4 linked regions of the Homo sapiens genome follow. The protein of the gene in region 1 interacts with the protein of each later gene in a pairwise test. Each region holds a gene or a part of one and is shown in the gene's direction. Other genes may lie near its edges. The genes, in order: PSMA3, KIRREL2, PATL1 and STX6.

Region 1 (7,148 bases):
CTAGATAAGAAATTCTGTCCGGGCGCGGGATGCCTGTAATCCCAACACTTTGGGAGGCCAAGGCAGGTGGATCACGAGGTCAGGAGTTCGAGACCAGCCTGGCCAAAATAGTGACCCCCCCCCACCCCCACCCCCCCGTCCCCAACTACCGTCTCTACTAAAAATACAAAAACTTAGCCGATCATGGTGGCCGGCACCTGTAATCCCAGCTACTCGGGAGGCTGAGGCAGAAGAGTCGCTTGAACCCGGGAGGCGGAGGTTGCAGTGAGCCAATATCACGCCATTGTACTACAGCCTGGGCGACAGTGCGAGACTCCATATCAAAAAAAAAAAAAAAAAAAGAAAAAGAAATTCTTCTAATTTCTGTGATAATGGAGAGGGGTGTGGTGTTTATACTACTACTTAGCAGTGCAAGTTAAAGACCAATTTGTAAACCTGAAAATAACAAAGAATTCTTAGGATAGTATCCCCAAAGCACAGTATTTGGAAGCTAGAAACATTGGGCATCACATTTCCTGAGGTATTCAATTTAAAAATAACATATGTCATAAAATAGTATACATTTAGAGTTGTCTTGCTCTGTCGCCCAGGCTGGAGTGCAGTGGCATGAGGCTCACTACAACCTCCGCCTCCCGGGTTCAAGCAATTCTCCTGCCTCAGCCTCCCAAGTAGCTGGGACTACAGGCACCCGCCATCATGTCTGGCTAATTTTTGTAGAGACGGGATTCACCATGTTGGCCAGGCTGGTCTTGAACTCCTGACCTCAGATGATCCACCCGCCTAGGACTCCCAAAGGACTGGGATTACAGACATGGGCCACCACGCCTGGCCTTTTTTTCTTTTTTCTTTTGAGAGGGAGTCTCGCTGGGCTGGAGTGCAGTGGCGTGATCTCAGCTCACGGCAACCTCTGCCTCCCGGGTTCAAGCAATTCTCCTGCCTCAGCCTCAGCCTCAGCCTCCGGAGTAGCTGGGACTACAGGCATGCAACACCACGCCCAGCTAATTTTTGTATTTTTAGTAGAGACAGGGTTTCACCATGTTGGTCAGGCTGGTCTCAAACTCCTGACATCAGGTGATCCGCCTGCCTTGGCCTCCCAAAGTGCTGGGATTATAGGCGTGAGCCACCGCGCCCGGCCGAAAGAACCCCCAAATTCTTAATTATTAATAAATATTGAGTGCACTAGGCACTCAAATAGTGTTTATCACACACAAGTAATGATGTTAATTAAAAGATTAACTGATACCTAAACAAGTTTTGAGTACTTACGGTTTACCTCCAAGGCCAAACCTTCTGCAACTATTAACCTTTAGCTTTCTTCAACACTTTCTTGGACTATCTTGGTCTAAATCCGAACTCCCCAGGAAAGAACTGCAACTAGAGGCCAGGTGCAGTGGCTCACGCCTGTAATCCCAGCACTTTGGAAGGCCAAGGAGGGTGAATCACCTGAGGTCAGGAGTGTGAGATCAGCCTGGCCAACATGGTGAAACTCGGTCTCTACTAAAAATACAAAAACTAGCCTGGCATGGTGGTGCACACCTGTAATCCCAGCTACGCGGGCAGTTGAGGCAGAAGAATCGCTTGAACCCCGGGGGTCAGAGGTTGCAGTGAGCAGAGATCATGCCACTGCACTCCAGCCTGGGTGACAGAGCAAGATTCAGTCTCAAAAAAAAAAAAAAAAAACCACTTACAACTAGAATGTTTTAACGAGGGTTAGGTAAATTAAGTGGCTAGTCTTCCAAGTCATTCAAGTCCTTTTATCTATCGGTTTGTTCAAGAATAAAAACATCAATTGTAATGCTTCATTAGCAGGAAAAAGCAAAAGTAACTGAAATTCCTTTTTCCCCCTTACTTTCTATACCCAATTCTGCAAGCCCTATGTCTTAGCCCATATTCTGCTGCTATAACAGAATACCACAGACTAGGTAATTCATAAACAAGAAAAGTTTATTTGGCTCATGGTTTTAGAAGTCCAAGAGCATGGCACTGACATCTGGCAAGGGCATTGTGCTGTGTTATCCCATGACAGAGGATCAGAAGAGCAAGCGAATATGTGAGACAGAGAAAGCTGAAATCCAGTGAAACTCACCCCTTTATTAGGAACCCACTTCCAAGATAACTAACCCATTCTGAAAATGTCATTCATCCATAGTGCCCTCATGACCTAATCACCTCTTAAAGGCCCCACATCGCAATACCATTACATTGGCAATTAAATTTCAACACGTGTTTTGAAGGGGACATTCAAACCATAGCTCCCTACACATCTGAAATCCATCTACATATTTCCACCTCCACTGCCACCACTTTAGTCCAAATCACTCTCCATTACTGCTAGCTCACAAAAGTGCAATAACTTTCCAACTAGTATCCCTGCCTCTCTTCTTTCCCTTAGCTATCATTCTTCACACAGAAACAAGAGGTCATTTAATGATTTAAATCAAATCATATAATTCTCTTGCTTTAAAAACTCCTGATAACCTCACAGTAGAAAACCAATAATAAATGTGAAAAGAATGATGGAATTAGAAAATCACCATTTGGCAACCATTGTAATAATCAATTCAAATAAGAATCATCAGATATTAGAATTAATGAGTGAAATGTTGAGGCGTAAACAGGATGTGTACATATTCTCAAAGTATTTCCTCACAAGATACTAATTACAAAGGGAAAAATGAAACATTATCAGGGATAAATCTTCAGCAAGTGATCAAAGTTAACATTACCAGCAATAAAACAACTAACATCATGTCCCTTCTAATGTAATGCTCTGACATGAATGAATACAAGGTCATTTCTGTAGTATTCCTGCCATAAATGCATCACTTGAATCAAATAACAAAAAAATCAAACCTAAATTAAGGAATATTCTACAAAATAAATGGTTTGTATTCTTCAAAAGTGTTCATGCCATGAAAACTGAAGAAATACTAAGCAACTATTTTCCAGACTAAAGCAGATTGGAAACATGACAACTGAATGCAAGGTGTGATCTTGGATTTTCTTTTGCTATGAAGGACATTATTGGGCCATTTACCAAAAAAAAAAAAAAAATGCATAAAGTTGATAGATCATAGTATTGGTAATTTTCTGATTTTCACAATAATACTGTGTCTCTGTGAAATAATGTTCCTGTGTTGGGGGAAAATACACACTGACGTATTAATATTTAGGAGTAAAAAAAATGCTGATGCCCTATTTACAATCGGATTAAAATTCAAACCACTTCAAGATTTGGTCTCCTGTGCACTTGTTCTCTTCCTGTCATTCTTCCCCACTTAATCATTATGAGAGGTCACTCTGACGTGACAGTTCCCAGCGCAAGCCAAGTTTTTTACTGTTCCCTAAACCACTGTCTTTTGTTACCCTATTTTAGTTTAAATATCACTCACTCAGAAAGTCATTCCCTGAGCACACTGCCTAAAGTTAGTACCTCCATTGTCTATTAAAGCACTCTTTCTTCTTACTATTTTGCTTATTTATTGTTACCTATTTATTCCCACTGAATGGAAATTACATTAGAAATGGGGGTATGCTCTGTTCACGGCTTTTTCTTGAACACGTGGAATATACTAGCGCTCAAAAAATATCTTTAATCAGACTTATCTTTAACTCTTACCAAAAAGCGTTATACTCATAGAAAGAGCACTAATACTTCCGTAAAATTCTAAGCTGAATTCAAAGACGATACCCTTTAAGTGAAACTTCACGAGAGCCTGAGCACAAGGAGGTGAAGTGGATGCCATCAAGATTCTGGGTCAGGGTCGGGACGCGGAGGAAGACAGGTTACTTCGCGCCTACTGCTTTTTCTACTTTTTGTGAGAGTATACCAGCATCTCTCCCTTTGGCTTAAAGAAAGAATAAAGTGAGGAGAGAATAATAATATAAAAGATAAATAATAATTCCAAGGAAAGGAATAGAGCAGCTTCTCAGATACCACGACGCCAAGCGGCTCAAAGTACGCGAACCGAAGGAGGAGCCTTTGCTTTCCCCAACCCCGCCTCCATTGCTTCTGCACATGCGCGCCGCCAGCCTCTCGCGGCCCGCTTTTTTCCCACAATACTCCTCGTCCTGGGGGCCGGAGCCGCGGAACGAGCCACAGAGAAAAAGGTTATTGGTTGGCAGTTCAGCCAATGAGCGGGCCTGTTACTAGTTTGCGGCATCCTGTGGTATAGGGGAAGCGCTCCGGGCCTGGAATCCCTACGCGTCCCTTTGGGTTTAGCACGATGAGCTCAATCGGCACTGGGGTGAGTTCGCTGTCTGTCGGTGTAATAGTTTAACCTAAGGATTGGGGTTGAAGGGAACTCGGACAGACCACATGGGGTTCGCGGACCCGGGGTGCTCTGAGACCGCCTTCGGCTGGGTGGGCCATTTGCAGCTGTTTGGAGACCGGTCGTCTTTATCCCCTATATGCTAGGCCTGCGTCTCAGGTGACCGTGACTCCTGAAGCTTTTCAGCGCAGGTGTAGCCGGCTTGGCGTCGCCGCAGTGAGGTTTGGAGCCGCTTTGGATTGCTGAGTCACTTTCTTCAGCCACTTAGGGAAACCGAAAGTGGAAACTCGTGGGGCTTGAAATAGTGTGTTCTCTTGAGAACCACCGAGGCAGTGAGATTTGGGATTCCGGGGTCTGGAGATCGTGCTTTTTGTGGACTGCGTTTGCAGTTCCTAGGGTGCTGCTGATTCACAGGCCTTCTCTGTCTTTAAGTGTGCAGATCATTGACCGCTCAGTTTAAGAGTCACTGGAAATCCTGTCGGAACAGAACTAATAAAAATGGTCTGAAAAACAATCTGATGAATCCTTCAGTTTTTCCTTTCTCGTTTTTCCTATACAAATTACCTAACAGCGCTTGTAGGCATTTATTCCGTAAACGTTTAAATGGTTACTTAGGAACTTAACAGCTTCAGACTTTTCATAGACTGTTGAGGATTTTGCAGTGGGACTTGTTAACTTGTTTGGCTTTCCTTTGTTAAACGTATTGCATATGTGCAGTCAGTTTACTCCTTTTATGTACTTCTCTATATAGAAAATACAGTTTCTAAAAGATTTATTGGTTATTTGCACTAGAGTTATTGAATAATGAGTTTCTCAGTTCCTCAATTTCTACTTCTTAACAAGATTCTCATGCTCAGCCTTAAGTTCAAGTACCGGTGTTCTAAATTTGATAATAGGCAACTTATGTCTGGAATGGTTTAATCCATTCAGTTATGAATGCTAAAGTTCTGCCATACTTTTCTTGGATAAGTAAATGCTCAATATTAAATCTTGTAGCAAACTGACTTTGCAATTATATTAATATTACCTTGAATTAATAGTATTTCATTCTACAAACCTTTTAAAGAATACTTGATAATGTAACCATGTGGGATATTTTAGTAACAATGGTAGGGTTAATGATCTGGGTTTAACAGATCAGGAAACAGACTCAGAAAGTACCACTGCTGAAGGCTTTTCTTCTGTCTTCATTTCTCCCAAGAACTCCAGATACGAATATTTGTTTGTCTGCTTGACATGTCTGTTCACTTGATCGTTTAATAGTCATTTCGTACTGCATGTGAAAGTAGAGCTCTGGGTTTTCTCCTCACCTTGCCATTTTGCATCTACTACAGTCTTCAGCTCAGTGAATGGTCATATGAAAAAATCTGTTATTCATCTTTAATTCCTTTTTTTACTTTACTCCCAGAACCAACGCTTTAGCAAGTTTATTTTTTTATTTTTATTTTGTTTGAGACGGAGTCTTGCTCTGTTGCCAGGCTGGAGTGCAGTGGCACGATCTTGGCTCACTGCAACCTGTGCCTCCCAGGTTCAAGCAATTCTCCTGTCTCAGCCTCCCGAAGAGCTGGGACTACAGGTGCGCACCACCACGCCCAGCTAATTTTTGTATTTTTCGTAGAGATGAGGTTTCACCATGTTGGCCAGGATGGTCTCCATCTCTTGACCTTGTGATCAGCCCGCCTCACCCTCCCAAAGTGCTGGGATTACAGGCATGAGCCATCACGCCTGGCCTAGCAAGTTTATTTTTATTATTTTTATATTTTACTCTACTCTCAAAAAATATTCCCTTCTACCTCTTCTCTCGTCTAAGCTACTACCGCTATCTTTGGAACACCTTATCTTTGCTTCTGTTGTTCTCTCTACAGCTTATTTTCCGCATAAAGCCAGAATGATGTTTTTAAAAATATAGATGATACCACTCCCCCTGCTTAAATTTCTCATTGCATTTAGAATAAAATACAGAGTCCTTTTTCCATCCTGGAAGACACAACATAATCTGGCCCTCAGCTACCTCACTAACACAGTTTACTCTTCTTTCTGCTGCTTACAGTGCTTGGGACACAGTGACCTTATTTCTGTTTCTTGACTGTGCTAGCCTTATTTCTACCCTAAGATCTTTGTGCCAAATGTCAAGAAGACTTTTCCTTCATATCTTAAATGGCTAGCTCCTTGTCATTTAGGTTTGACTCAGCCTAAATATAACTGCCCAGAAGGCCTTCCCTGATGATGTAGTCTGTAGTAGTTCATTGCTTTACTCTTTTATTTTCATCTTAGTGCCTTTTCTGATTTACTGCTGTACCTCTAGCACCTAGATTCATGTCTGATGTGAAACTGAAGGACTTAATGAATGAGTATACCTTTGTATTCCGTATAGTAACATAATAGATACTCATTAACTGCTTGGTGAATGCCGAATGATTTGTTTGAAGTCTTTTAGTTTGTTAATGGCAGAGTTATCGTTACAAATTTAAATGTTCGAACTCCAGTGCTGGTTCTACTGCCCCATATTAATCTTTTTCAAAAATGAGTTTTGTAGTCTGGGTGAAAAGTGTTCTGACTTCACCTGGGACCTGTATCCATTACTCTTCAATAGCTGAAATCGAAGGTATATAGCTTTATCTTAGCTACTGTTGCTGCTCTGACAAGTTTCCCTTTCCTCTCTTGAAAGCAAGGTCTTTGTTGGGATATAACAGGTTCCTGATGTTTCAGCCATTTAGAGGGGAAGAAACTGTATGGTCATTACTGCCAAAGATACAAGCTTACTGTTGCCCTTTTCTCCTTAAGTATGACCTGTCAGCCTCTACATTCTCTCCTGACGGAAGAGTTTTTCAAGTTGAATATGCTATGAAGGCTGTGGAAAATAGTAGGTAAGAAACA
Region 2 (6,991 bases), on another chromosome or scaffold:
ACCATGCCTGGCTAATTTTTGTATTTTTACTAGAGACGGGGTTTCATCATGTTGGCCACGCTGGTCTCGAACTCCTGACCTCAGGTGATCCATCTGCCTCAGCCTCCCAAAATGCTGGGATTACAGACATGAGCCACCGCACCTGGCCTCCCTTCCTTTTTTAGTAGACATCAGTGCCTAAATGATGTCAGGGATCTCTGCTGGGGAGGATGCAAGAGTGAGTGTGACAGGCTGGGAGAGTGTGGGAGAGAGGGAAGATATGCATGTGTGTACGTGGGTGTGAGAGTGGGGAAGGTTAGAGTGAACTGCGATCTGTAATAAGCATGTGGAGAGCGTGTGTGTGACAGTGTCTTACGTGGGAGTGCACAGGGTGTGGGCGGGAGTAAAAGGCAGAGTCCAATTCCACCGGCCCCCAGTGTGGGTGCAGTGTGAGCCCAAAGTGGGCGCCCTTTGGCAAGGACTGCATGAGCTTTCTTCTCCCTCTTTTTCTTGCCCTCTCTCCCATCTCTTCTTTCCTTCTCCATGTCTCTCTCTCTCCCTCCCTCTATCTATCTTGATTTATCTTTCTTTCTTTTGAGATGGAATCTTGCTCTGTTGCCCAGGCTGGAGGGCAGTGGCATGATCTTGGTTCATTGCAGCCTCAACTTCCTGGGCTCAGGTGATCCTCCTGCCTCAGCCTCCTGAATAGCTGGGACTACAGGTGCACACCACCACTCCAGCTAATTTTTTAAAATTTGTTTGTAGAGACAGGGTCTTTCTCTATTGCCCAGGCTGGAGTGCAGTGGTGTGATCATGGCTCATTGAAGCCTCAAACCTCCTAGGCTCAAGTGTTCTTTCTGCCTCAGCCTCCTGAGTAGCTGGGACTACAGGCCCGCATCACCACTCTGGCTATTTTTTTTTTTTTTTTTTTTTTTTTGAGAGGGAGTCTTGCTCTGTCACCCAGGCTGGAGTGCAATGGTGCGATGTTGGCTCACTGTAACCTCCGCCTCCCAGGTCCAAGCGATTCTCCTGCCTCAGCCTCCTGAGTAGCTGGGAATACAGGCATTGACCACCACACCCAGCTAATTTTTGTATTTTTAGTAGAGACGGGGTTTCGCCATGTTGGCCAGGCAGGTCTCGAACTCCTGACCTCAGGTAACCCACCTGCCTTGGCCCCCCAAAGTGCTGGGATTACAGGTGGGAGCCGCTGCACCCCGCCACTTGGCTAATTTTTTTTAAATGTTTTTGCAGAGACAGAGTCTTGCTATATTGCCCAGGCTTGTCTGGAACTCCTGGGCTCAAGCAATCCTCCCATCTCGGCCTCCCAAAGTACTAGGATTACAGGCATGAGCCACCGCACCTGGCCCTTGATTTATCTTTCTTTTTTTTCTTTTTTCTCTTTTTTCTTTTTTTGAGATGGAGTTTCACTCTTGTTGCCCAGACTGGAGTGTAATAGTGTGATCTCGGCTCACTGCAACCTCTGCCTCCCGGGTTCAGGCGATTCTCCTGCCTCAGCCTCCCTAGTAGCTGGGATTACAGGCATGCGCCACCACGCCTGGCTAATTTTTTGTATTTTTAGTAAAGACGGGGTTTCTCCATGTTGATCAGGCTGGTCTCGAACTCCTGACCTCAGGTGATCAGCCTGACTCGGCCTCCCAAAGTGCTGGGATTGCAGGCGTGAGTCATTGTGCCCAGCTGATTTATCTTTCTATCTTTCTCCATCTGTTTGAGACTCTCTCGCTCTCTATATTAAGTTGTTAAATCTCAGTCAATCTTTATTTCACTGTGTCTCTCCATCTCTATATGTCTCTGTTATTCTGTTTCTCTGTCTCTGTTCTCACCTCTGTCGCTCCCCTCACCCCACAGTCTGTCTCACACACACCAGGAGCTCCATAAATATTTGTTCTCAGCCACACTCTGACCACGCCTCTTTCTCTTATGTGTCTCTCCATCTCCGAGTGGCTCTGCTCATCACATCCCTGGATTTTATAACCATATGCTGGTGGGCCTGCCCTCCCCGCGTGCACATACACTTGCCTGGGATAAGCTTCTTCTGCCTGCTTATCTCCTGCGGGAATTGGAAATGCTAGTTTTCTCCCTACCTCCCCAAGACCCCCGCCAATATCGTTCCCAGGAACAAGATGAGGCATCTGGCCTCAGCCCCCAGCTTCATCCTCGATGCTGGACTTCCATCTTCCCTCACATGCTTGACTCCTTGCCCTCCTCCCACCTCCCCTCTCCCAACTGCTCTCTACACCCCCTGGGAAATGGGCTGGATGCCGAGCTGGGGGAGTGGCTCTGTCCTGGGGGCCCTCGCCAGATGGTGTCCCTAGGTGCCAGAGCGTGGAGCTGTCCCTTGCTGGGGCCTTTAATAAGCACAAACCTTCCACCCTCCACCTTGGCTGTTTTCCTTCTCTGCATGCTCCTGGGACCTTGGGCTCTCCATCTTTCCATGTCCGTAGCCCCAGAGAGCCAGGAAGGGGAAGCGGCGTCAAGTGCCTGGAAAAACAGCCCCATGACTTGAGTTCCTCCCTAAGACTCAGGAGTTCCAGCCCCATGTCCATCCTATTTCAAAATCCAGGCACTAGATAAGCCACACAGAAGCCGGGAGTGTAGGCCCCCAGATCCCTCCCCTCTCAGACCCTGGGGTCTCAGTCCCTTCTCTCCAAGGACTCGGGAATTTGGGCCTCTGATCCTCCTGGCCACACTACCCACCCCCGCACCTCCCCATACACACACACACACACACACACACACACACACACACACACACACACACACATACACACAGGACTTAGGACAGATGTTCACGGTCTGATTTCCAAATCCTCCTGGGCCTGTGTGGGGGTGGGGAGAGATTGGCAGATAGATCCACCGACTCTTAAGACTTAAGACCAGATATTCTGACCCCTGTCACCCTCTTCCAAGTGCACCATGCACTTGAGTGCACCTTGAGTCTCCAGCCTCTCAAGGAACCGGGAGATCAGGCCATCAGCGTCTCAGCCAGCAAAGGCCTGAACCACCAGTCCCTTATAACCCTGTAAGTCCAACCCCCACTCCCAACCCCACTCCCCCATTTAGGGACACGGAGTCTGAGCCTAAGAACAGTGGAGAATCTGAATGTGGACCCTCCAGTTCTTACAGGTCCAGGAATGTCAGATCAGGGTCCCAGCCCCCCAGCCCTCCTTCAGGCTGCTCGGGGTCCCTCCCACCTGCTCGGCCAGCTGCGCAGCGTGGGAACGCCCCAGCTGGGCTGCATGGAGCCGTCAGGACAAGCTGCGCGGTTCCCAGCCTCCCTGCCTGCCCCGGCCCGGCACCGCCGCCTCCCAGCCGTCGCCGGGCAACCAGGCCGAGGGGCCCGGCCGGCCGAGTGGGGAGAGGGGTTGGGCTGGGACTGCGGGGTCCTGGGAAAGGAGGGGCCGAGGGCCTGGATTCCTGGGTCTTAGGACGTGCTGTAGTTTGCAGCAATAACAAGGGAACAGAGGGATATTTTGAGGAGGGGTTTTGAGGCTGGGGGAGTCGAGGTAGGGGTCCCAACTGTCCCCCAGGTATCGGTGTGCCCTCTTCCCGACACGCAGGCCCGGGGGAGCCCCGGACCCCGCATCCCCCAGGGCGCGGAAACTGGCGAGGCCCCAGGAGCTCCCATTTATAGCTCAGTTTCCACTGAGCGCAGTCCCTCTAGGACCTGGGCTGAGCAAGTTTCTTCCACTCTCTCCCTTCCCTCCTCCTCACCCCTTGCCTGCCCCTCAACCCCGGCAGGGCGCAGGTGTCCAACCCAGCCGGGACCCCCTCCCTCCTCGAACCCAGGTGTTCCGGCTCCCAGACCCCAATTGAGCTGGGGGCGCCCACCCGCCGGGGGATCCCGCCCTGCGTCCCCCATTCATCCGCGTCTCAGCCGCGGGAGTTTCTCAACGGGAAGAGGGCGGAGCTCCCGGGGGGCGGACCCGGGCGGGGCGAGCGGGATCGGGCCCTCTTGGGGTCTCCCAGAGACCCAGGCCGCGGAACTGGCAGGCGTTTCAGAGCGTCAGAGGCTGCGGATGAGCAGACTTGGAGGACTCCAGGCCAGAGACTAGGCTGGGCGAAGAGTCGAGCGTGAAGGGGGCTCCGGGCCAGGGTGACAGGAGGCGTGCTTGAGAGGAAGAAGTTGACGGGAAGGCCAGTGCGACGGCAAATCTCGTGAACCTTGGGGGACGAATGCTCAGGATGCGGGTCCCCGCCCTCCTCGTCCTCCTCTTCTGCTTCAGAGGGAGAGCAGGTACCGCACGAGGGGAGCGGAGGAATATGGGGTGGGGGTGGGGAGTTGCTTGCGGGCTGCCTCTTCACTAGCGAGAAGGGAGCTGGGGGCTGGGACTCCTGGGTCCTGAATGAGGAGGCCCCTGAAGGTGCTAAGCTCAGCCCTGCTGCCCCGAACTCTCCTAGGCCCGTCGCCCCATTTCCTGCAACAGCCAGAGGACCTGGTGGTGCTGCTGGGGGAGGAAGCCCGGCTGCCGTGTGCTCTGGGCGCCTACTGGGGGCTAGTTCAGTGGACTAAGAGTGGGCTGGCCCTAGGGGGCCAAAGGGACCTACCAGGTAAGAGTGTTCTCTCCACGCTGGGACGGGCTGGCTAGGGGGAGAGTTGCTGGGCTCGGCTGTACCTGCAGTTTCTATTTTGACATTTTCAAGTTTGGGAAATTGATGGGCTCGGGTAAACATTTAGGAGTCCTGATTTTTGAGCTGCTTCTTTGGGGGTGACCCACGGAGTTTGGGAATTATTATGTTATTGCAAAATAGTACATAGGCCAGGTGCAGTGGCTCACGCCTGTAATCCCAACGCTTTGGGAGGTTGAGGCCAGAGGATCGCTTGAAACCAGGAGTTTGAGACCAGCCTGGGCAACATAACAAGACCTTATCTCTACACAAATGTATATATATATTTTAAACAAATTAGCCGGGTATGGTGGTGTGCATCTATAGTCCCAGTTACTCAGGAGGCTTAGGTGGTAGGATTGCTTGAGCCTAGGAGTTCAAGGCTGCAGTGAGCCATGATCAAGCCACTGCACTTCAGGCAATGGTGAGACCCTGTCTCAAAAAAAAAAAAAAAAGAGAACATAAATGCAAAAAAGTACAGTAAATATAAATGGAAGATTTACCAAATAAAATAGACACACACAGCCAATACCCAAGTCCATTGCTAGCTCCCCAGAAGACCCCGTGTTCCTTTCCCCTATCATAGCCCCCTCCCCCTCACTCCAGAAGTAGTATCTAACCTAATTTTTATGGCAATCATTTTCTTGCTTTCCTTCCTGACTTTATTACCCCTAAGTTTGCAGTGACTCTGGGTTGGGAGGGAGTTAGAGTCTCTCTGGGCCCAGTACACACTTTTTAATAGTGTCTTACCACCAAATGTGTGGGCCAGTTTTCTGGTGGAGGATGTCTGGGGATGGAGGCCTGAGGCCAGGATTTCAGAACCATGGTGTGCTGACTGCCTTCTCCCTGACTCCAGGGTGGTCCCGGTACTGGATATCAGGGAATGCAGCCAATGGCCAGCATGACCTCCACATTAGGCCCGTGGAGCTAGAGGATGAAGCATCATATGAATGTCAGGCTACACAAGCAGGCCTCCGCTCCAGACCAGCCCAACTGCACGTGCTGGGTAAGGACCTCGCCCACTTGTCCCCTGGGAGCCCAAGAGGGCAGCCCGTACTAGCTGTGAGTAGCAGAGCCCAGGGAGCCCAGGGGCATGGTCAATTGGAGCTGAGAAGATCAGGATCCATCTCTGACCCCAAATCCACCTTGCAGTCCCCCCAGAAGCCCCCCAGGTGCTGGGCGGCCCCTCTGTGTCTCTGGTTGCTGGAGTTCCTGCGAACCTGACATGTCGGAGCCGTGGGGATGCCCGCCCTACCCCTGAATTGCTGTGGTTCCGAGATGGGGTCCTGTTGGATGGAGCCACCTTCCATCAGGTCAGGTCCAAATTCCTGTGCTAGCCTTTGCCCATTGAGGGAAACTTGGGTTACACTCTGACCACAGGCTCATCCAGAAGAGAAGAAGACATGGGAGGGCAGAGGTTCATGGGTTTGGACTCTTGAAATATGATGCAGGGTAAAGATTCTAGGGCCAGACTACCTGGGTTCAAATTATGTCTCAGCCACTTGCTAGTTGATTGATCTTGAGTAAGTTAGTTAACCTCTCTGTGCCTCAGTTGCCTTATCTATACAATCAGGATAATAGTAGCATGCATGTCATAGGGTATTGTGAGAATTAAATAAATAAATACCTATAAATGCCCAGAAGAGTGACCAATACATAGTGAGCACTATATAAGTAAGGCAAGCTTGTCCAACCTGCGGCCCATGGGCTGCATGCAGCCCAGGATGGCTTTGAATGTGGCCCACCACAAATTCATAAACTTTCTTAAAACATTATGAGACTTTTTTGTAATTTTTTAGCTCATCAGCTATCATTAGTGTTAGTATGTGTGGCCTAAGACAATTCTTCTTCCAATGTGGCCCAGGAAAGCCAAAAGATTGGACACCCCTGATGGGTAGATGGCATTATTATTCTTATCCTTCCCTCCAGACCCTGCTGAAGGAAGGGACCCCTGGGTCAGTGGAGAGCACCTTAACCCTGACCCCTTTCAGCCATGATGATGGAGCCACCTTTGTCTGCCGGGCCCGGAGCCAGGCCCTGCCCACAGGAAGAGACACAGCTATCACACTGAGCCTGCAGTGTGAGTGCAGCTGGCCCTGGGAAAGAGGGGTGTGGGGCCCTGACTCCTGGGTATGAGGAAGGAGGGGACTGTGGCCCTTGGGGAATGAGGAAACTGGAGCCTGGACTCCTGGATCTAAGATAGCAGGAGAGGGCTGGGTATGGTAGCTCACGCCTGTACTCACAGAACTTTGGGAGGTCGAGGCAGGCGGATCATCTAAGATCAGGAGTTCGAGACCAGTCTGGCTAACATGTCGAAACCCCGTCTCTACTAAAAATACAAAAATTTGCCGGGCGTGGTAGCACACACTTGTAATTCCAGCTACCT
Region 3 (7,027 bases), on another chromosome or scaffold:
TCTGTTGTCCAGGCTGGAGTGCATTGGTGCCATCTCAGCTCGCTGCAACCTCCACCTCCTGGGCTCAAGCGATTCTCATGTCTCACCCTCCTGAGTAGCTGGGATTACAGGCGTGTGCCACCACATCCAGCTAATTTTTGTATTTTTAGTAGAGACGGGGTTTCGCTATGTTGGCCAGGCTGGTCTCGGACTCCTGGCCTCAAGTGATCTACCCCCCTCGGCCTCCCAAAGTGCTGAGATAACAGGTGTGAGTTACCACACCCGGCCTAAATGATACATTGAGTTTTGCAGTAAGTTATTAGACTATGAGTAAGGGACAGAGGAAAGTAAAAATCTTCTTTGAACACTGCCTGCCTGCATTGCTGACTTTTTATTTTGTTGGAATTTTTTTTTTTTTTGTCTTTGCAGTGCAATTTGAGGGCTCTTTGGGAAAGCTTACCGTTTCTAGTGTGAATAATCCCCGAAAAATGATTGATGCTGTTGTGACATCTCGGAGTGAGGATGATGTAAGTGTCAACACAATTGTCTGTTTAAGAACGTCTGATTTGTGACCACTTCTTTTGGGGTCACCATGGAATGAGATCAGGCATGGTAGAGTTGTTTGTAGTCTAACCCGGGGCCTCCCACCTCGTCATGCATTCTAGTTTTCCACAGATGTGCTGCAGTATTAACACCTTCATTTCTAAGGCAGCCAGGCAGGGACTAGGGTGGCAGGAGTCTTTGGATTGGGTAGCTCTGGCTGCAAACAGCATGTATTTACTCCAGTTTGATGTTAAAAAAATTATCATTTTCTATGTGTTTTAAGATTTTCAGGAAGAGGATCAGAAAGAATAATTATGGGGCACTAGGCTTAGTACCTGGGTGATGAAAGAATTTGTACAACCCCCATGACATAAGTTTACCTATGTAACAAACACATGTACCCTATAACCTGCACGTGTACCATTGAACCTAAAATTAACGTTTAAGAAAAAAAAAAGATTTTCATATTTCATATGATTTCCTTATCCTCTACTAAGGTTGCCCTTTGCCTATCTGTGAATGGAATTTAATAGTTTGTGGATTGATTCAGTCAACTTTGACCTTTGTTCATACTAGGGTTGTTTTAGATTATTAACTTTCAGAGAATCAATTATCTTCTCAAAGTATTGTCACAAATGAACCTACAAATGCGCACTTGGTAAATTATTTTAACAGAGATAAAGAATTTGCATTGAATAGTCTTCTCTTTTTTAGGAGACAAAAGAAAAACAAGTTCGAGACAAGAGGAGAAAAACCCTTGTTATAATTGAGAAAGTAAGTTTAGAATTTGTTGCTGTAGTTAGTTTCAAATACGGAACTGTCAAATGTATGTATATACTAGAACTGAAACAGTGAGCAATCAGTCAATGTTCTTTGGTTTTAATTCATGAATATATTGCTGGTAAGTGACTATTGTGTACCACATAACTTTGGAAAGGATTATGGTATGTTTCACCTATTGGCATCATGGAAAGAACACTGCAGTTAAAGTTGGAAGTGTATTGGGTTTTTGTCCAAGCTTATTCAGTTAACAGCTGAGTGTCTGGGCAAGTCACCTTTCTAAGCCTGATAAAATGGGAATGAAAATTACATTGTCCTACCTGTGGATTAATTTAGTTCACAGATATTTACTGGGCACTATTCTGGGTGCTGAGGAAAATAATGGATATTAATAGTTGATTTGTAAAATGTAAATACCACATTGTAAGGCCATACACCATAGTGGTTGAAAGTATGGACTCTAGAACCAAGCTGCAAATCATGTCTTTTTCCATTTCTGAGTCTGTAACTTAAGGCAAGTTATTTAACCTTTCTATGCTGTCCTCAGTTTCTTTATCTGTAAAAATGGAGATGATAGTAGTAGTTTTCTCTTTGGATTGCTTTTTTTTTTTTTTTTTTTTCCTTTTGAGATGGAGTTTCACTCTTGTTCCCCAGGCTGGAGTGCAATGGCGAGATCTTGGCTCACTGCAACCTCCGCCTACCGGGTTCAAGTAATTCTCCTGCCTCAGCCACCTGCGTAGCTGGGATTATAGGCATGTGCCACTATGCCTGGCTAATTTTGTATTTTTAGTAGAGATGGGATTTCTCCATGTTGTTCAGGCTGGTCTTGGACTCCCAACCTCACGTGATCCGCCCATCTCAGCCTCCCAAAGTGCTGGGATTACAGGCGTGAGCCACCGCGTCTAGACTATTTTACTGTCTTTGCCTGCTAGAATAGAAGTCAGAGAGAGACAAAGAATGGTGGTTTGAGGAATTTTTTAAGTTATTTCATATGGTTTTCTACATTAAAAAAAAAAAAATCTCAGTCTTTCTATAATGAGTTTGTCTTTAGCTAGTAGTCCTAAACTGTGAAATTGTTTAACTAATACTGTGGTTCTGACCTAGCATGCTGTGGCCTGCTTTTGTCTCCCTTCTTAGACCTACAGCTTACTCCTTGATGTGGAGGACTATGAAAGACGTTATCTCCTAAGTCTGGAAGAAGAGCGACCTGCCCTAATGGATGACAGAAAGCACAAAATTTGTAGCATGTATGACAACTTAAGGGGGAAATTGCCTGGACAAGAGAGGTAAGCATCGTGCAGTTTGAGGAAAACATTAACTGGACTCCTTCCTCTGTCATAACTGGATTTCATACATTTTTGCCTTTTAGGTACACTTCCCTACCATCTCTGTAAGCTCAGAATCTATCCTTTTAGCCTAACTCAAATGCCACTTCATTTAAAATACGAATTATCTTTTCCAGTGAGGAAAGAAAAAAAAAGTCTTTATCCTGAATTTATTCATTCAACAAATACATAGTATCTGCTGGGGACAGTGCTAGGCACTAGAGATATAGTGGGTAACGTTATTGGGTTTTTGTGCTTACAGATTGCACCTGATTTATGATTACTAGCATGTTTAACCTTGTAATCTTTATATATTTCCTTTATTACTAAGATCAGATGTACAAACATTTATACTTCCTGGGATTTCCACAAAATATTTATATCCTATCGAAACCCTTCAGTCTTCCAATGGGGAATCCCTCACCTACCCCATTATCTGCAAAAGAATCTTGCTGATGTTAAATGTTCTGTAAATCCTGAATACTTATTCGATGTATTCAAGAGAACTACAACTTCTAACAACTCCCTTTCTTTTTACCCGTTCAAGAGAATTACTTATCCTTCTAAGCCAGGACATACACAAAACCAAACATAAGAATAAGCACTTTGTTTTCAACACACCGTGTCTGGAGTTAGGCTGACAGGGAACTGGTTAAATAAATGGTTTATCCATAGATTGGATGTTATGCAGCCATTAAAATGTATGTAGTTGAAATATATTTATTGACATGGAAATAAGTTGTTGAGTGAAAAAAGTCAAGGTACAAAACCATATGAATTATATGGGCCCATTTTTTTATGAAAGAAAAAATATATAATACAAAGCAAAATGTTGTTTAAAATGGTAACACTAATTAACTCTGAGTTGACGAATGTTTTTATTTTCTTTTTTCTTTTTTTTTTTTTTAAGCTGTTGCTGTTAACCATATGGTATTTGTGTGGTTACTTAAAAGTTAAGAGAGGAGGCCAAGCACTTTGGGAGGCTGAGGTGGGCAGATCACTTGAGGTCAAGAGTTCAGAGACCAACCTGGCCAACATGGTGAAACCCTGTCTCTAGAAAAATATAAAAATCAGCTGGTCATGGTGGCGGGCATCTATAATCCCGGCTGCTCAGGAGACTGAGGCAGGAGAATCACTTGAACCCAGGAGGTGGAGGCTGCAATGAACCAAGATAGCGCCACTGCACTCCAGCCTGGGTAACAAAGCGGGACTTCGTCTCAAAAAAAAAAAAAAAAAAGAAAAAAAGTTAAGGAAATTAGTGCATACAGTTGGCCAAGTTTTTTTTAACCATATAATTTGTGAAATGATTATTTTCTACATTTGTAAGACCTGAAAATTTACTTTTTATTTGGTTGAGATTTGGAGAAGTGATTCCTACTGTTTTATAGTACAGGTTATTAGAGAATGAAAATGAATGCAGTATATTCATTCAGTAACATCTAAGAGGAAAAAAATGAGGGTTTCTTAATTGTTCTTGCTGACCTAAGCTGGCATTTTTCTTCCTTGCAGGCCTAGTGATGACCACTTTGTACAGATCATGTGTATCCGAAAAGGGAAGAGAATGGTTGCCCGTATTCTTCCTTTCCTCTCCACAGAGCAAGCAGCTGACATTCTCATGACAACAGCCAGGAACCTCCCTTTCCTTATCAAGAAGGATGCACAAGATGAGGTGACTATGCAAGATGGGACATCTTTCTTTTGAGTCTTTATAAGTGATAAGATTTCTAGAATGCAAACTTATTTTCCTCTCCTCTTCCCTTTTGTATTTTTGTCTAATCTTTGGCTGTGTGATTTGATTATTTAAAACAAAACCTTTAGTATTTCAGGCCTATATTTTTAATCCCATATTTGATGGAACAGACTATGTTTCTAAACATGAGAAAAACAACAATTCCCTCTTACTTGACATAGTTGTAAAGATGTGGTCTGTATCAGAATTACTTGCGTAGATAATTCAACTCCACCCCAAACTGCTGAATCAGAATTTACAGAAGGATTAGGGTTTTTGTATCTTAGTCTCCAGCTGAATCTGATGTTCACTGAAGTTTGAAAACTTATAGTCTTGGTTATTTTGCTAGATATGAAGTATCATTCATTGTTCTGTTATCAGTAGCTTAACATTAGCCTGTAGACTTAGTTAAATGGTATCCCACAGCAACTGAGCTAGTCCCCTTTTGGTTTTTTTTTTTTTTTTTTTTTTGAGACAGAGTTTTGCTCTGTCACACAGGCAGTAGGGCAATGGTGTGATCTCGGCTCACTGCAGCCTCCACATCCCAGGCTCAGGTGATTCTGCCACCTCAGCCTCCTGAGTAGCTGGGACTACAGGCATGCGACACCATGCTCGGCTAATTTTTTTTTTACCTTTTGTAGAGACAGGGTTTTGCCACATTGCCCAGGCTGGTCTCAAACTCCTAGACTCGTGCAGTCCTCTTGCCTTGGCCTCCCAAAGTGCTGGGATTACAGGCTTGAGCTACTGTGTCCAGCCCGAGCCAGCCCTTTAAATAATTTTTATCATGATCTAGACTAGGCTGGAATTTTAACATGGTTATCACATGTACAAGTTAATTCTTGGTTAGAGTTTTTCTCTCCTTATCCTTGTCATAGCACACCTGAAAGATGAGCAAAATTTAGAATAGTCTTAAGAAGTTCAAAATAAGAAACTGATAAAAGTGGGACAAAGGATGAATATTAGTACAAGATTCAGAATAGTAGAATATATGGGAGTGAACCTGTTATAGACTACAAGTTGAGTAATAACGATCTAAGTAATGAGTCCCCAGAAAACACAGAATACCTTATAAATGGTATGCTATGAAAGGGAAATTATTCTTTCATAGATCCTTGAAATGTTAGCATCTGCAGAAGAAATGAATGAGAAGTTTAGGTCTCATTGAAAAAAGTGAAGTGGGTTGGGACAAGTATATATTTAAAAGATTTGGCTGGGCACAGTGGCTTACGCCTATAATCCCAACACTTTGGGAGGCTGAGGCAAGTGGATCGCTTGAGGCCAAGAGTTCAAGACCATCCTGGGCAACATGGTGAAAAACTGTCCCTACTAAAAATAGAGAAAAAAAAGAAAAAAATGAGCTGGACACAGTAGTATATGCCTGTGGTCCCAGCTACTCAAAAAAAAAAAAAAAAAAATTCCACAAATGAAAAATGAGTTAGGGAAAAGTTCCAGTATTTGAGGTTTATCCTAGAAAATAGAAGACCAGACTAAAAAAGTAACAGCTACCTTAGAGCATATAATTTGTAAGCAGTGTAATGGGCACTCATAATCCCACCAGAGCTCTTGTGTGGAAACAAGTTTGGGAGATAATTTGCTGAATACTTCTATGTGCCAGGCATTATTTTACCTCCTAGAAATACAACACCTAGTTCTAGGTGCTAAAAGATAAGAATGCAAAAATGCCTGCTTTCATGGAGCTTACCTGCTAGGAGGAAAGCTTGGCTAAATACCTAGGCTGATTTTTACCTGTATGTTTTAAGGAGTAATAAACCACATCTCTAAATACCATTTTCTTGAAGTAATAGCTGGTTCTAGGTCTGAATCATGAAATGTACAAGATATCCTGGAATATCTAGTGCCAGAAAGCAAGGAAGTTAATAGATTACTAGAGTCCTGTCTAAAGGATACACAAACCAACTTCAAGAGACTCATACTGGCCAAAAGTGGAATAATTTTCATCAGAAAGAACAGTTACAGCAGTAGATTGAAATATATCAAATATATTTAATGAGGTAATAGTGTTAAACATATATTGATCACCTTTGGAGACTACTAGGCCATCAACCCACTATTCAGAAAATTGGTAAATAAAGGAAAAGCATTTATCCTACCTTTCCATTACAACCAAATGTCATGGTAATCAGAGAGTTGATAATACAAAGTTCTTTGTAGAAGAATTTTAGCTAATAAATACAAAAGAAATGATAAAATTAGAAAATAACTGTTTTTGCAAGCCTCAACAGAGAAGCAGTCAATCTAGACAGCACTCATTACTGGCTGCTAAAAGCAGTAGGTAAAAAGTGGATGGGGGGGGAAGTGAGGGGCACCTCTGCCTGGCCGCCCCTACTGGGAAGTGAGGAGCCCCTCTGCCCTGCCACCACCCCGTCTGGGAGGTGTACCCAACAGCTCATTGAGAACGGGCCATGATGACAATGGCGGTTTTGTGGAATAGAAAGGGGGGAAAGGTGGGGAAAAGATTGAGAAATCGGATGGTTGCCGTGTCTGTGTAGAAAGAGGTAGACATGGGAGACTTTTCATTTTGTTCTGTACTAAGAAAAATTCTTCTGCCTTGGGATCCTGTTGATCTGTGACCTTACCCCCAACCCTGTGCTCTCTGAAACATGTGCTGTATCCACTCAGGGTTGAATGGATTAAAAAAAAAAAAAAAAGT
Region 4 (7,027 bases), on another chromosome or scaffold:
TCCTCCCACACCAAGAAAAGAAAGGCCATATTAGGACTTATCATCTGAGTATAAATTATTAATACTGTCACACCAAGTGGAAGCATGTGGGAATGCTCATTGCCCTTTAGTTAATTTGTAGGATTGCTTCATTATACTTTTACGTATAGTCTGTTCAGAGAAAAATATTAAATTTGTCCTTCCCCAACAAACTTGATATTGTAGCTGCTTAAATAATGGCTATTGTATTCCAAGCATCAGCTGAGAACATAATACTCAGACTGTGTATCAAAGTTTTGAACTTTGATATTTGTCTGTGAAGAGCCTTCTGTGGGAATGGTGGTTGCTGAGGATGGTGTATGATCATAAATGTTAACCTAAATCATGCAGTAACTTGACCATGGAATGTTGTCTGTGATTTCTCTCCTTTGCCTCATCTTGATTACAGAGAGGTACAGAAAGCAGTCAACACTGCCCAGGGATTGTTTCAGAGATGGACAGAGCTCCTCCAGGACCCCTCCACAGCAACAAGGGAAGAAATCGACTGGACCACCAACGAGCTGAGAAATAACCTCCGGAGCATAGAGTGGGATCTAGAGGACCTTGATGAAACCATCAATATCCTTTTCTGTGGTGTCTGTGCCATTCGGGATAAATAGACAAATGGACAAGTTTTTCTCCAGTTGTTTCCAGTATGTAGATGAAACATTTTATAATCGATTAATGTTTGTTGCTCTTACTTGTACCATGACATGTTTAAAGTATTTGCCCAGTAACTTAAGGTACAGTAGCCAAATTCTTATACAGTGTGTGACAAATCCTGTACTATAAATGTATATATATATATAAAGGCAGCATAGTGTAATGATTATGACTGTGGACCCTGGAGTCAGATTTCTGGTGTTCAAGTCCTGCCTCCACCAATGTAAAGGGAAAAAAAAAAAACCCTTTTTTTCTTTTTTTTTTAAGTCTCTACCCTCACACTCAAGTCAGTATGATATTTCTGACACTGTCTACTTGGAGATAGCATCAGGTCCACAGGTTAAGAGCTCAGTCCCACAAGACTGCCCCCACTTCAGATGCCAGTTGCAAGCCCTAGGTTGTGACCAGCGCTTCCAACTGACCACGTATAAATTGGAGTTCCCACGACCCCCTCCATAGATCGAATTAATTTAATTTGCAAGAGCAGCTCACAGAACTCCGGGAAACAGTTTCCTTAGGTTTATCCATTTGTTGTAAAGGATATTACAAAGGATACAGATGAATGACCAGATGGAAGAGATGCATGCAAGGTATGGGAGAAAAGGTGCAGCACTTCCAGGCCCTCTTCAGGTGCCTCCAGGAACCTCCACATGTTCACCTATCTGGAAGCTTCCTGAACTCTGTCCTTTTGGTGTTTGTGGAGGATTCATTTCGCAGGCATGATTGATCACATCAGTTGGCCATTGGTGATCAGCTCAGCCTTCAGCCCCTTTCCCCTGGGGTGGGGTTAAGCAGGGGGCTGAAAGCTTCAACTGTCTAATCACATGGTTGGTTTCTCTGGGGACCAGCCCCTCGTCCTGAGGCTATCTAGAAACCCCCAGCCATCAATTATCCCATTAACATACAAAAGATACTCATCTGGAGATTCCAAGGGATCAAGGAGCTGTGTGCCAGAAATGAGGGGGCAGAGACCGAATTTGCATTTATTACAGTATCACAACCAGTTACCATGTGACTTGGGCTCATCACTTAACCTCCTGTGCTTCCGTTTCCTCTTTAGTGGAAAGTTAGGATAACAAGAGTACCTAGCTCATAGGATTATTGGGATTATACAGGTAAAGAGTTTAGAATGGCACCTGGCACACAGCTTATGTAATAGTGTTAGCAGTCATTATCATATAGAGGTCCATACAGGCCAGTGTTACACTTCGGTAATTAGAGATCAAAAAATCTTTTTGTAGACTGTCTTCATGTTTAAGAAGTGATGTTACAGTGCTACCGTCCATTGAAGAGATGTCTTGTTCCATGAAACTGCATTTAGTAAAAGCAGATCTGCTCTGCTAATTCATGGTATTGATGTGAAGTAAGTCCACTGATCTGACTCATGCACTGGAGAACTGTAAAAACTTCATTATATAGCCTTTTTTTCCAACTGGAAATCCCACTTAACCAAAACTTTAGATGGAAGATATGCCACTTGCATGTTCTGAGTTCTGTTTTGTTTTTTCCCTAAGTGAGATAAAACATAAGGAAACCAGCTTCTGTCAGGATCACCTTATAGTTAGCACAGGTTCGTATGCAGTTGATACATGGAGTAAATAATTTTTGTTATTCATGATGACCCTGGTACCTTTTACATTATTAAAAGGCAAGTATGTTCTCTAAAATTAGTGGCAAATATGTGAGGGGGCAGGATCAAAAGCACAGTTACAGGGAGATAATTCTTCCCTTGAGAAAGGAGGGAAGGAAAAAAAGTTAGGGGAGATAGAGAAAATGTGAGATTAAAAAAACAAAAGTTTTAATAGATACTCATCATTCAACCAGCAAGTGTTTATTGAGTATACTATGTGCCAGGCATTTTGTTGGTTACAGAGATTAGATTAATAAACACTATACCAGCCCTCACAGAACTTTGAGTGGATAGGGATGGGGGACAGATGGTAATCAAGTAATAACACAAATAGATACCTGCAGACTATGAACGAGAAGTATAGAGAGCTATGCAAGTGTCTGACATGGTGCGTCGGACCAGGCTAGAGGGTAAGGGAATGAGGGCAGCTTCTCTGAAGAAGGCCCGATCTCTCTAGATTAAGAAGTAGGGTTAGCATCTTGGCATAATGGGAAGTGGTTTGGAATGGCAGGAGAAAAAGGCTTGCAAAAGCTGTCTTAGTAAAGGTGATCAGGAGTCAAAAAAGGATAGACACAAGTGTTGGCAAACAGGAAGAGCCCAGCTCACCTGTGGTCAGATAGCCCTAAGTGTTTGCAGTGAAGCTCATCAGCAGGGGCTATGCTTCCTAACCAGACAGATCATCTCTGTCTTGGAGCAAAGGGATCCTCCCTCCTGTGGCTGTGGGCAGAGGAAGTCTGAGAATGATTGGTGTCCAGCTGACTGTGTTTTCAGAAAGTTTGAGCCAGATTTTATTTGTTTGCATGTGAGAGATTCAGTGAGTTAACAGGATGTTGTCAGGCTTTGATGATGAAATTGTTTTACCTTGACTTTTTGACCTACGCATAGTTGAAGCAAATCCTAGAAAATTTAACCTTGATGCAACTGAATTGAGTATAAGAAAAGCCTTCATTACAAGTACTCGGCAAGTTGTCAGGGTAAGGAATATGATCTTATTGTGTTATCTGTATAAGAAATAGCCAGACTTCTTAGAGCTCTTTCCCTTAATTGTAAACTAATAGGTCACCTCTGAAACCACTTTTTAAATATGAATTAAATGTGAGCTTCCCCATATATAATTTCTCTGATTGGCTGCGCATGGTGGCTCATGCCTGTAATCTCAGCACTTTGGGAGGTGGAGGTGGGTGGATCACTTGAGCCCAGGGGTTTGAAACCAGTCCGGGCAACATGATGAAACCCTGTCTCTACAAAAAAAAAATATAAAAATTAGCTGGGCATGGTGGTGCACACCTGTTGTCTCAACTACATGGAAGACCAAGATGGGAGGCTGAGGTGGGAGGATCAGGTTGAGGCTGAGAGCTATGATCACGTCACTGTACCTTAAAAAAAAAAAAAAATTTCCGTGATTGAAGAAAAAGAAATCTGTTTTTAATCTTTCTTTTTTTGACACAAGGTCTCACTGTGTTGACCAGGCTGAAATGTAGTGGCATGATCTTGGCTGACTACAACCTCTGCCTCCCAAATAGCTGGGACTACAGGCGTGCACCACCACACCAGGCTAATTTTTTGTAGAGACAGGGTTCACCATGTTGCTCAGGCTGGTCTTGAACTCCTGAACTCAAGTAGTTTGCCTGCCTCAGCCTCTCAAAGTACTGGGATTACTGGCGTGAGCCACCATGCCCAGCCTGTCAGGCTTATTTCCGAGAGCAAAAATGAGACAGTAATCTGCTGGCTTTGGGCAGGGTACATTCAAATGGTGTCATCCTGAATGATTAGACCCTTGTCCATACCTCTAGTTTCTTCAAGCTAGTTATCTTTCTCACTTTTTATTTCTTAGTGTACTCTATTTCTTGACGAACAAAACAATTGCTATTGTAGAAACCATTTGGTTTTTTGATTGATTGGTAATCACTTCGCATTGTTGAAGAGTGACTCTTAGTGGGTTTGGATAGCGGCCTCTTCCGCCATCTGAATTGCTTCTGGAACTCTTGCAACCCAAGATACTGACATTTCCATATGTAACTACTTGACAGCCGTTCCAGAGTTATCCAGAGCAAACAAGCATCTATCAGAGTGTAAAAAATTGATCCAAGTGAACAAATCTTTAGTTCTAAGTTATTTAGAATAATACCCATTATTAAAGAATCTGAGAAAAAATATTAAGTACAATCTTGTGTCATTAAAATGTTTCATATTTTGAAACTATATGGCTAAGCCATTTGATTAGCATAACTAGATGTAAGAGAACCAGCTGTCTTTAACATATGTACTAGAAAGCAGCTTCCTTGAATAAAAAGACTTGGGATCATACCAGTGCTAACATACGGCTTTTTAAGAGTCATCTTAGGCAGGAACCTTAGTTTGTGTTTGCCAAAGTCTTTATATCATGTGATTTCCTTTTGAAATTATTTCAAATGGTAGATTATCACTGAACTTTATATATTCTTGTTACTTGTTTTATTCATTAGTTGCCTTTCTATATACATATACGTAAATTGTTTATAGATAAACCCACATTTTAATGAGGGAGAAACCTTTCTGGACCTCAGATGCCCCATCCACAGTGAGTGTTTGGATTGGACATTCTTAATTTCTAGCCAGTTCAAAATACTGTTCTGATGAGGAAGCCTTGTTGTTAGGTGACATATTTTTTGTAAGATAAGTAAATCCCCAATTATTTTGTATAAGCTTTTTTTTTTTTTTTTTTGTAGTAGTAGGTTTTTTGAAGGATACTCCTATAGACGTTAATATTTAAGTGGGGCCTTGCAGTGAAGCATATGTCCTTAACCTTAATCATTATATTTATTTCTGCAAGGTAGACTTAGGAAGTTTGCAAATTGAAATTTAGAGGTTCGTATATTAAAAATTAAGTTCATTGGTATAATGGAAAGAAGAATCCAAAGTTCATTTTCTAATATCTGAAAAGCTTTTTAAAGTACATTCTTAGAAAGAGGTTGATATGATTTAGCTGTTTCCCCACCCAAAATCTCATCTTGAATTGTAATCCCCATAATCCCCATGTGTCAAAGGAGAGACCAGGTGGAGGTAATTGAATCATGGGGGCAGTTTCCCACATGCTGTTCTCATGATAGTGAGTGAGTCTCATGATAGCTGATGGTTTTATAAGGGGCTCTTCCCACTTTGCTCTGTCACTCTTCCCTGCTGCCTTGTGAAGAAGTTGCCTTGCTTCTCCTTCTGCCATGATTGTAAGTTTCCTGAGGCTTCCCCAGCCATGCTGAACTGTGAGTCAATTAAACCTCTTTCTCTTATAAATTACCCAGTCTCGGGCAGTTCTTTATAGCAATGTGAGAACAGAGTAATGAGAGGTATTCCAAATCAAGTCAGTACTTCAAAATCTTACTGTCCTTTTAGAGTTGAGATCTAAACCATACTCAACTATGTGATCCACCTGAATATTTTAGGGTTTTAAATCATTCTTGTTTAAATTTATGACCCCTTTGGGGGAAGCTGTTAGTATTTACCAGTGGTAGGCTAACAGTACCTAACTGAGCTTTTGCTGATCTGATTGTAATAAATTCTAGTTGAAAGTCCTATAGAAGAGGAGGAAATAGCAATGGTGCTAACTCGATTAAAAATAAAATATACCTTGTATAATTCCACATTACCACATTTAGCTAAACAGTGTTTGTATGTAGAGATTTCTGGGTTCTGGGTGGAAGAGCTCGATAGAGAGGGAGCAGAGGGTTAGCAGATTTGGAAAATGAGATGAAATGAAGTTCAAATTAGGAATTTGTACAAATTTATGTTAGTTCTTCTGTTACTATTACTAGTGGGCTTTCATTTAATATTGCTCCAAAATTTTGATTGACTTTATCTTTCAAACAGTGTATTCTACTTATGCTTTCTCTTTTGTAGGCAGGGGAGTCAGTGATACTCTATGCATTTTGTGGTTTTTTTTTTCTTTATTTGCTTCAACCTGAAGAAGTAAATCGCCTGTTTCTTCTTGATTAATGTCCATTGGTTATGCCTTTAGTAAGCTTTCCTTGTTTAGAGTTTTGTGTATGTTTTTCCAAGCATCTTTTAAGTCTGTACAAATCCAGTTTTGCTGGCAGTTTTTAGTGAAGAACCAAAATACTCACATTTTTGTGTAAATAGCTTTCATATTTTTGAGGTAATCATTTTTACTCTTGTGGAGTCACCTATACATCAAAGATTCCACATGTGAAATTTTTGTGTTTTAGAAATATATCCTAGAAGTGACTTTGGTTTTACTTTAGGATCAAGAGGTTTTGCAGTATATGGCAGAATAATGGTGAATATAAGGGGTAAGGGAACCTGAGTTCTAGGCTAAGCTGTGACCTTAATAAATCTTAACCATGGTAAGTCATTCAACCTCCCTGGATCTCAGTTTTATCTATGAAATAATCCTCACTAACATTCTCTGACTTTAAAAGTTAGAACTATTACCCTCTCCATGAAAAAACCGAACCTGCTCCAATGTAAGAATTGTTTACAGTCAATTGTAAGTCAAGATGGAAATGGCTTTGGTTAATCAAAAAGGGTGAAGTATCCAGTGTGAGCACAGATGACCTTGAAATGTAAGAATTATGAGTGGGAAGCACTGGGGTTTATGATGTCTCATTCATTCAGCTTGGAAGACAGTGTGAAATGGGAACAGAAGCATAAATAACCAGGACATTTGTTGTTCCTTTGGCAGATGAACCATATTTTATTGGGACTTGTTGCTTGACTGCTGGT

The links.
Region 2: the proteins of PSMA3 (region 1) and KIRREL2 interact in binary tests that used the Homo sapiens proteins (3 or more experiments, as listed by UniProt).
Region 3: the proteins of PSMA3 (region 1) and PATL1 interact in binary tests that used the Homo sapiens proteins (3 or more experiments, as listed by UniProt).
Region 4: the proteins of PSMA3 (region 1) and STX6 interact in binary tests that used the Homo sapiens proteins (3 or more experiments, as listed by UniProt).

What each region holds. Positions count from the first base shown.
Region 1 is NC_000014.9:58,240,695-58,247,842, forward strand, and holds the start of PSMA3 (proteasome subunit alpha type-3), read left to right. Parts: upstream 1-4,148; 5' UTR 4,149-4,226; coding exon 4,227-4,247; intron 4,248-7,055; coding exon 7,056-7,138; intron 7,139-7,148. UniProt on the Homo sapiens protein: Component of the 20S core proteasome complex involved in the proteolytic degradation of most intracellular proteins. This complex plays numerous essential roles within the cell by associating with different regulatory particles.
Region 2 is NC_000019.10:35,852,947-35,859,937, forward strand, and holds the start of KIRREL2 (kin of IRRE-like protein 2 isoform c precursor), read left to right. Parts: upstream 1-3,964; 5' UTR 3,965-4,173; coding exon 4,174-4,234; intron 4,235-4,398; coding exon 4,399-4,548; intron 4,549-5,461; coding exon 5,462-5,611; intron 5,612-5,757; coding exon 5,758-5,918; intron 5,919-6,534; coding exon 6,535-6,685; intron 6,686-6,991. UniProt on the Homo sapiens protein: May regulate basal insulin secretion.
Region 3 is NC_000011.10:59,645,023-59,652,049, reverse strand, and holds part of PATL1 (protein PAT1 homolog 1), read left to right. Parts: intron 1-408; coding exon 409-506; intron 507-1,236; coding exon 1,237-1,296; intron 1,297-2,439; coding exon 2,440-2,588; intron 2,589-4,136; coding exon 4,137-4,296; intron 4,297-7,027. UniProt on the Homo sapiens protein: RNA-binding protein involved in deadenylation-dependent decapping of mRNAs, leading to the degradation of mRNAs. Acts as a scaffold protein that connects deadenylation and decapping machinery.
Region 4 is NC_000001.11:180,998,864-181,005,890, reverse strand, and holds part of STX6 (syntaxin-6), read left to right. Parts: intron 1-427; coding exon 428-597; intron 598-3,190; coding exon 3,191-3,285; intron 3,286-7,027. UniProt on the Homo sapiens protein: SNARE promoting movement of transport vesicles to target membranes. Targets endosomes to the trans-Golgi network, and may therefore function in retrograde trafficking.